Linked DNA regions of Homo sapiens: regions 1 and 2 are each reported to be linked to region 3. Evidence: microRNA targets listed by miRTarBase, many of them from high-throughput screens and not tested one by one. Region 3 holds a microRNA gene; each other region holds the end of a gene's coding sequence.

Region 1 (3,071 bases), not on the chromosome of region 3:
TCTCCAGGAGCAGGTTAAGCTCCAGTCTCTCCTCCTAAGCTGGCTGTTCTGGGTCTGCAGTCAGGTTGCTGTTGAGAGAATGGCTGTTCAGAGGACGTTTAGGAGGGTAAAGGTGGGCCTGCCTGCAGACTGGCAGGCAAAACAGGGGCCCAGAACCCACTTCCCCACCCCACTCCTTTCCCTTGCGGGAGAGACTAATGCAGCTGAGATGAGAAAGGGAGATGACACGCGTAGTGATCAGACCACACTCCGGCTTGTGCATTCCCAAGGCTTCCTTCCTAGTTCATGCAGGGCCGGCCTACAAGTCAGGTCCCACTCCAGCTCCGAGACAATGGAAGCCCCCCAAAGCCAATCTCATTTGGGTATTGAGATGCAGTTAACGGCTGAGTGAGGTGGCTCACGCCTGTAATCCCAGCACTTTGGGAGGCCAAGGCAGGCGGATCATCTGAGGTCGAATTCGAGATCAGCCTGGCCAATACGGTGAAACCCCGTCTCTACTAAAAATACAACAATTAGCCGGGTGTGGTGGCACCCACCTGTAATCCCAGCTCCTTGGGAGGCTGAGGCAGGAGAATCTCTTGAACCCCAAAGGTGGAGGTTGCAGTGAGCCGAGATGGCGCCACTGCACTCCAGCCTGGGTGACAGAGCGAGACTCTGTCTCAAAACAAAACAAAACAAAAAGAACAAAAAAAGAACAGTGACCCTTAGGGGGAATTCTGGAGAAAGATCAGGGCAGAAATAAGTCCTGTCCCTGGTCCTGTAAGAGCAGCTGGAAGCCACGCAAGAGCACCATGACATTCGTTCAAGCCCCTCTTTCAGTCCTGGCACGGAAATCGCGACTGGAATCTGCTTCTAAGCCTCCCACCACATGACCCTGCCGGAGGGGAGCGCTCCATCTTTCAATACCCTCGTTATTTCCTGCAGCTGTGGAAGTCAGAAACGGAACGCACATTTTAGTACAAGTGGTTTATTTCTCTTCCAGGTGAGGCCGCATGTATATAAGCAAAGGTTTGCCCACCTGGTTCCTTCAGGAACTCCCCGAGGAATCTGTTTAGTTTCCATGCATTAAAAACAACCCTCTAGTTGCCAATAATGAAACTTTAAGAAGCAACACTTTGACGTCGCAGAGTTCCTCTCTGCATGTGACGCGGATATACCAAAGTGAGTTTATGGCATACAGTATGCATGGGTTAATGTAGGTGAGACAGGGAGTCCCGGCTGCCCTGTGGCCCCATTCTGTTGTGGAGGCTTCGCTGGGAGCTGAGAACACCCTGCTGTCCATGTTTTGATGACAGGTGGTTCTTCCAAAACAGAAGCACCGAGTCACCGCACGCCCCTGCTTCAGTGTGCGAGGCCGTGGGGCTCTGGTGTTGTGAACTCCAGGTTGGCAGGAGGTTGGAAGCACCAAAGACCCCAACTCTGGTCCCTCAACAGGCAGTATTGGGGGACATTATTCCCTCCTGGCCAATAAGCTCCTGTGGCCTGGGACACTGGGTGGGGACAGGTGGTGGGGGTGGGGCAGGGCAGAGGCCTATCCTCCTATAAAGACACAGTTGTAGCACTTTGCTAAAACCTTTTCTGGCAAACTTACTTGGAGACAACAGGGAGGGGACAGCTGATGTAGGCATTTGGCTAGTCCCCTAGAACAGGGAACTCTGGCTTTCCCTCTTGGCTTTTTTCTCCTCTTAAAGATCCTCCCTCTGTGGGTGAGATGAACCCAGATCCCCACCAAACAGTAGCTTGGGACAGGATGCCTCACTGATCCTTATTTAAGAATCGACTCCTTCCCGTCTCCTCCAGATCTGCAGATCTCCAGATCAGTGCCAGCAAAATCTGCAAAAGTAGTGACCTAACCAGGGTAAGGAATGAGCTGCAAATCTGTTGTAAAAACTGGATGTGCTAGGAGTTTCAATTCTTTGGATAATCAACATGTTTAAAACACTGGAGAAAAGAAAGACCTAAAGTCGTTTCAAAGTGTCTGTTCATACCTGAGACCATGCCTATCTGCAGCTAACACATTCTGCAGCATTGATTCTGGAATAGAGGCGAGGCAATGGAGGGTTAGGGAGACAGGCGGAATGTGGCAGGCTTTCACCTCTGTTCCCACCGGGGTTCACCAGCCTGTGATCCCCCAGCCCCGGAGCCACCAGCCCCCCACTGCAGAGCTTTCCTGATGCCTCCCCTCTGTGGCCCAGGAAGAGCCTGTCTGGCCCTGGGAACTCTGATTTGGGCTGTTCTGGTGTCAGCAGGGGTGCGAACTTCTTAAAGAGCATCTCCTGATCAGCCCTTCTCATGTTACCTGCAGGGAACGAGGACAGGGAACGAGGACAGAGGGGTCGTCTGGGCTCTTGGCTGGGCTGACAAGAGGCAGAGTCATCGTTGTGGGACCAGAGAGAACACACAGCTCTCTTGATGGTGGTGCCTGACCTGGCCCCCTCCTCACTGCCACTCCCCTCCTGGCAAGGGCGAGGCGTAGGGGTGAGCAGGGCCAGGCAGCCAGCTCAGGGATGGTACCTCTGAGGCAGCCAAGCACCTGGGGGCATTTCTGGTGTGGAGAGCAGGGCAAAAGAGAGAGGCTGGCCCGCGTGGTGAGTCTTCTGCACCCCCTGGGGCTTTGGTCGGGAATCCCAGCTGCTCCTCTGCCACAGCAGGAGGCCTCTCGGGCTCCAGATGCCTTTGGTTTCTATTAAAGAAACGCAGCTTGTATTTGCACTAATTAAAAACCAGAACGGAAAAAGGAGGCAGGAACCCCCGAAAGTCTGTTAGGCTGGAAACTGATTCCCGTAGTGCCTCAGGTGCTCATCCGCCACAGACAGGTAGGTGGCTCTCATGCTGGGAGAGTACTGCCAAGAGAGAAGAGAGGGGATGGTCAGAGCTGAGTCAGCCAAGCACTGCACCAGCAAAGGTGCCGGGGACTTCTCAGAGTGGAACTGGGTCGGGTGTCAGAGGGAAACCCGGCCGTGCCTCCACCCCACATCCATCAAGACTTCTGCCTCCCAGCCTCAAATAAAAAATGCACACACAGACCAGCTGTCCTCCAATGTCCACTCCGCCCCAGCACACACCCCCAG
Region 2 (3,071 bases), not on the chromosome of region 3:
TTTTTGTTTTGTTTTTTTTTTTTAACTTAATAGATATTTCTAAAAGTGAGAGACAGAAGTCTTTGAAATTTGACCAGGTTCATCCTGAAATGGGTAGAACCGTCCTAAATTTGAACAGCACTGCTTTATGCCAAGACATCAAGCAACCAATTCCGCAGGTTTTCTGTACTTTGTGGGTTTTCTCTGGCCTTCCATCAGCAGGATCGCCCCACTCGCGTGTAAGGACAGAAAACCATGGTTGACTTTTCCCCTTGCAGGCCTGCCCAGGTGACTTTCAGAAGCCTGGCCTCGAGGGGCTGGAGATTCACCAGCATTAGGTGAGAAATGGATCATGGCACCCGTGTGGAGGAACTGGGGAATTCTGAAAAATGCAGCTCTTGGGGCACAGGGGCCCGGGGTCTGGGTGGGCTTCCCCTGTTCCCTGGGGTGGCCAGGCATGTGACCAGGCAGGAAGCAGACTGGGCAATGGGCCTGCCCTGGGCTTTGCAGCCTCATTGCTCTTGGCGTGAGGAGCTGGGGGTCGGGGGGCGAGGTCACACCTTCCTCACACTGAACATGTGCAAATCTGATCATATGTATGGTCCTAGGGAAGGGCGGGGAGGGAAGAGACAAGGGAGGGAAAGAACAAGGGGATTTGTTCTTGTTTCCCACCCACCCACTTTTATGCCCCAGAGTGGAGGGAAAACAGGAATTTACTCTTCTCCCACGTGGTCTCAGATCCTGTGTGTCTCAAACAGAGCAAGCACCTCATGGCAAAGAGGATGATCGTAGAGTTTACATCTGTCCCTCTTTTTTATATAATTAAAAAACCTGAAAGTTGGTTTGCATGACACTGGACATTACTGGATATACTGTGCACATATTACTACACAGGGAATTTACACAGACCCCACATTCTGTCTTACTGGGTGATTCAAGGACTCTTCAAGGGCTTTTTGATTTGACCCAGCTGTGTCATATGCAGTGATTTTAGAACGAAGCCCAGCCTGAGCTCTGTTGCTTTTAGATTTTTCCTCAATCTGAAGAAAAGCGTTTGGACTGTGGTGTTTGAAAACAAGCCTGTGTGTTCTGCAGTGAAGCCGCACACTCACCCCTTTGGTTCTTTTCTAGGCTTTCTTATCTTCACAGGCAGAAATGGCTTAAACGGGAGTTTCTACAATCGACTAAGCTTCCGACACAGCAGAATCCCACGATCCCACAACCCATTTGTTTTTTACGTGAAACAGGCCTCGGGGGAGAGATTTGAGGGGGTTTTATTCTTAAAACGGCACATTTGTAGAGAATGCCCTTTATATATGTTCTAAAGAAAAGTGTACAAATACTCAATGATTAAAGTGTCTCTGAGAAAGTGGCTTCGGACCACACCAGCATCTGGTCCTTTTGCTGTGACCCACCCCATCCCGGAGCTGGTCGGGTCTGGCTGGATGTGCTGCCCAGTGAGTGCCTCGCTCGGTAACTGCTTGGTCCTGAACATTCTCTCGTTTCAGGAACTGATGAGGTTCTCTTCTTTTGACTGATGGAGATTACAAAACTCTTGGATTCCTGGAAAACAAGACGACAGGCATAGAGTGCTAATGGCTTGTCTACCCCTTGACAGCCCTGTCCTGTGCTGGGGAGGGCTGTGTTTTGACAGGGGTGGAATCCTCTGGCTAGTTCCATAAAAAGACCTGTGTCTGTGATGCCCTGAGTCTTTGAAAGTGACCGGAATACCTCACACTACCCATCTTGCTCATAACCAGTGGCTGCGGCCTTCCTCGGACCATCTATAGATGGAGGATTCTGGGAATGCTGTTTCCTTACCCTTGACATCATTCTTCTAGGCAAGTAAAACCCAGCCACAAACTCAGAGACCACAGCTTTAACAAACACTGACACCTCTGCCCTAACTCTGGGGCCTCTGATGGCTGCCACTGGCTGAATGTGGCCTGCACGTGGGTTTGGTCTGGCTCAACAAAGTTTTTATTTTTATTTTTTATTTTTTTGAGACACGGTCTCACGCTGTTGCCCAGGCTGGAGTGCAGTGGCGCGATCTCGCCTTACTGCAGCCTCCGCCTCCCAGGTTCAAGCGATTCTCCTGCCTCAGCCTCCTGAGTAGCTGGGACTACAGGCATGCGCCACCACACCCGGCTAATTTTCATATTTTTAGTAGAGACAGTGTTTCTCCATGTTAGCCAGGCTGGTCTTGAACTCCTGACCAGCCTCAAGTGATCTGCCTGCCTCCTTCACCCAAAGTGCTGGGATTCCAGGTGTGAGCCACTGCACCTGGCCTTTTTTTTTTTTATCAGTTACTTTTAAAAATGAATTACTTTATCCCTTTATTGGGATGTATTTCCTAAGCCATAAATTTCACCCTCACCATGTTTTTTAAACTATGAATTAATTCACAATACTCACACATTGAGAGATTTCTCATGGACTCCTGGCTTCCTCGGCTATGGGGGCCACTCTGTGGTCATCACAGACCCCACCACCCACCTGTCCTTCCACACCCCTGGCTCCTTTATGTTGCTTCCTGCCCCACAGGCATCTGCATTTAGTACTCATGGAAATACTTACTCTGAATTATACTTCTGTAGGCTAACGTGGCTGGGGAATCTGGGGCGTCAATGAAAAAAGACTGGCCTTTGTCACAATTCTTACCTTAAAAAAGAAACAAACGGAAGACAATTCAGTCCAAGAGGAAAACAGAATGGCCACAAGATCTTGGGGCTCTTTCCGTGCTGGTGACAATGGGAAGATCTTGAGCCCGCTTCACTCGTAATGAAGAACAAAGTAGAAAAGACCAGTGGGGTCTCAGGGACCTTCCTTCCAGCAGGGTCCCCAGCCAGCATTTCAGCGTGGCTAAATAATCAGGTGGTGTACAGAAAATGCAGGTTCCAGGGCCCTACAGAGAACTGATTCAGCAGCTTCCACATGGGCCCAGGAGTCTGCATTTTAAGAGATTAGCTTTTGAGTGAAAGGATCATGAATGCACATGGTTAAAAAAAGTACAGAATGCAAAAGGATATGGCATAAAAGGCCAAGTCCGAAAAGGGCTACTAGTGTTCTAGGTGTCTTTCCAGAAAGATTAT
Region 3 (3,000 bases):
GAGATGGGGTGTCACCATGTTGCCCAGGCTGGTCTTGAACTCCTGAGCTCAAGTGATCTGCCCACCTCGGCCTCCCAGAGCGTTGGGATTACAGGCATGAGCCACCACGCCTGGCTCTTTCCTTCTTTCTGCCCACTTTCCACTGTACACTTCTCACATAATCTGGATCAAGGAAAATGACAGTATTTCATATAGTGCTTTGCCTTTTGAATCATTAGTGATAATACACTCTATTAATTGAATCCTCTGATAGAGTGAAATATGTTAATACATGTAGGGCTCCTGATGAAGAAGTCAAAGCCTGGATTTGAGCCTTAGTGTCCCCACTAATATATGTGAATGCATAACTTTATGTGTAAAGTGGCTGTAAGTAACGCACAGGATTGTTGGGAGGCTAAAGTTAGACAGGAGTAAATAAAACATTTTGTAGCTGTATTCTGAAAGCAGAATAGCTGTAGCATTTACTTAAATTACTTAGTAATAGTTCAGTAGTCTATTTGTTTTCCTATTCTCTGTCCATCTCCCCATTTTATTTGCCCAGATCTATAGATTATGAGTCAATCGGTATACTTTTGCTTAGAACAGTCATTATTTTGTTTTCCTCCTATTTTACCATTTATCTCTAATTTATCATTCACCCAGTTATCCCTTAGTTCCTCTTTTACTTTACCCTGACCTATTGCTAATTTTTTATTCTGGGCTCCCAGGACACTCTCAATAAGTCATAGCCTCCATGTTCCCCAAACTGTATGTTTTTCTACAGGTATGGCAGCACTGTGATTGTATGGGAGTGAACTCAGATGTGGAGCACTACCTTTGTGAGCAGTGTGACCCAAGGCCTGTGGACAGGGTAAGCTGAACCTCTGATAAAACTCTGATCTATAAGTAGGAGAGGTAGCACATGGTATCTCACCTGTCCTGCTCCTGCTTTGCAGAATTTCCTTTAATAGGTTGTTCAGCCTCTCTGGGCCTTGGTTTCTTAAACTTTACATTAAGGGTCATAATTCTGTTCTTCCCTATTTCAGGAGTATGACCAAAGGGAAAATAAAATACTTAGAAATCTGTGGAAGGAATGGCACTATATAAAACTAAGGTTTTTGGCCGGGCACGGTCGCTCATGCCTGTAATCCTAGCACACTGGGAGGCTAAGGCGGATGGATTGCCTGAGCTCAGGAGTTCGAGACCAGCCTGGGCAACACGGTGAAACCCCATCTCTACTAAAATACAAAAAAAATTAGCCGGGCATGGAGGCGTGCACCTGAAGTCTCAGGTACTTGGGTGGCTGAGGCAAGAGAACTGCTAGAACCCGGGAGGCAGATGTTGCAGTAAGCCAAGATCATGCCAGTGCACTCCAGCCTGGGCGACAGAGCAAGACCCCATCTCTTAGAAAAAAAAAAAAAAAAAGGCCGGGTGCAGTGGATCATGAGGTCAGGAGTTTGAGACCAGCCTGGCCAAGATGGTGAAACCCTGTCTCTACTAAAAATTCAAAACTTAGCCAGGCACAGTGGCAGGTGCCTGTAATCCCAGCTACTCAGGAGTCTGAGGCAGGCAAATCACTTGAACCCAGGAGGCAGAGGTTGCAGTGAGCCAAGATCGCATCACTGCATTCTAGCCTGGGCAACAGAGCAAGACACTGTCTCAAAAAAAAAAAAAAAAAAAAAGCTGGGCATGGTGGCTCACACCTATAATCCCAGCACTTTGGGAGGCCGAGGCGGGCAGATCACAAGGTCAAGAGATAAAGACCATCCTCGGCCGGGCGCAGTGGCTCACGGCTGCAATCCCAGCATTTTGAGAGGCTAAGGCGGGTGGATCATGGGGTTAGGAGTTCAAGACCAGCCTGGCCAATATGGTGAAACCCCATCTCTACTAAAAACTGCAAAAAAAATTAGCCGGGTGCAGTGGCAGGCGCCTGTAATCCCATCTACTTGGGAGTCTGAGGCAGGGGAATCACTTGAACCTGGGCGGCAGAGGTTGCAATGAGCCAAGATCACGCCACTGCACTCTAGCCCGGGTGACGGAGTGAGACTCAGTCTCCAAAAAAAAAAAAAAAAAAAAAAAGACCATCCTGGCTAACATGGTGAAACCCCGTCTCTACTAAAAATACAAAAATTAGCTGGGCGTGGTGTTGCGTGCCTGTAGTCCCAGCTACTCGGGAGGCTAAGGCAGGAGAATTCACTTGAATCTGGAGGCGGAAGTTGCAGTGGGTCGAGATCGCACCACTGCACCCCAGCCTGCCAACAGAGCGAGACTCCATTTCAAAAAAAAACAAAACTGAGGTTTTTATAAACACTATCAGATGTCCATGAAAGGAATAGCTTACAAAATCCAGAACTTGGTACCCTTAACGTCATTTATGTTAGACAGTGGTTTAAGTGAAAAGAGCACTGGACTCAGAATCAGCAAAGGTTAGTGTTAGGCTCACTTCATAGGAGAGAGGGTAAGTGGCTTGCCTAAGTCATTAAGTGGGTTCTGTGCTTGGCTCTGCTATCTTTATATGTGTGATTTTGGGCAAGTCATTTTTAAAAAAAGAAGAGATTTAGGCAGTATTTCTTAACAATGTTGCTGTTGTCATGTTTAGGTGAATAGTTCTTGTTGTGAGGGATGCATTTCAGAATGTTTGGCTTCCTTGGACCCTGGGCATTAAATACCAGTAGCATACCCCAATCATTGTAATAATTAGTCTCCCTTCACACATTTTCATATGGCCCCTAGATTACGTAGAGCAACTACACAATTAGTGCTTCATAAAACATAGATTGAGATACTTAGCCTATCAGTTTTGTCCTCTACCTTCACTTTTCCAGGTTTAACAGCTCTAGTTGCTTTCATCTTTTTTGTATATCTGTGGTATATTGAAATGACTAAACAGTAAGTTTTGATTGAGAATTCTAGGTTGAGAAATAAGTAGGCTGAATGTAGTAATTCCAGCCCTTATACATTGGCTTTCTGCTCCTATCAGGAGGTTCCCATGATCCCTCGGCCCCACTATGCCCAACCTGG

The links. The annotated mature microRNA hsa-miR-555 reads AGGGUAAGCUGAACCUCUGAU and lies in region 3 at 848-868, shown strand. An mRNA with a match to its seed (bases 2 to 7 or 8) in the 3' UTR can be bound and repressed. Matches are read on the target gene's strand: a 7mer-m8 pairs with bases 2 to 8, a 7mer-A1 pairs with bases 2 to 7 and ends in A, and an 8mer does both.
Region 1: miRTarBase lists TTYH2 as a target of hsa-miR-555. Seed matches in the 3' UTR shown: 7mer-m8 at 1,857-1,863.
Region 2: miRTarBase lists TVP23A as a target of hsa-miR-555. Seed matches in the 3' UTR shown: 7mer-m8 at 1,796-1,802.

The regions. Positions count from the first base shown.
Region 1 is chr17:74,259,901-74,262,971 of GRCh38, reverse strand. It overlaps TTYH2 (tweety family member 2), which reads right to left. Exons shown (of 14, transcript NM_032646.6): 14 at 952-2,843. The coding sequence ends at 2,763. Among named protein-coding and RNA genes, the nearest start is that of DNAI2, 13 kb to the left of the region's middle.
Region 2 is chr16:10,767,518-10,770,588 of GRCh38, reverse strand. TVP23A (trans-golgi network vesicle protein 23 homolog A) reads left to right here. Exons shown (of 8, transcript NM_001079512.4): 7 at 258-317; 8 at 1,488-3,071. The coding sequence ends at 317. NUBP1 (NUBP iron-sulfur cluster assembly factor 1, cytosolic) reads right to left here. Exons shown (of 11, transcript NM_002484.4): 10 at 2,557-2,640; 11 at 1,238-1,542. The coding sequence ends at 1,484. Among named protein-coding and RNA genes, the nearest start is that of NUBP1, 25 kb to the right of the region's middle.
Region 3 is chr1:155,344,233-155,347,232 of GRCh38, reverse strand. It overlaps MIR555 (microRNA 555), which reads left to right and starts at 788; the gene lies at 788-883. It overlaps ASH1L (ASH1 like histone lysine methyltransferase), which reads left to right. Exons shown (of 28, transcript NM_018489.3): 21 at 764-850; 22 at 2,960-3,000.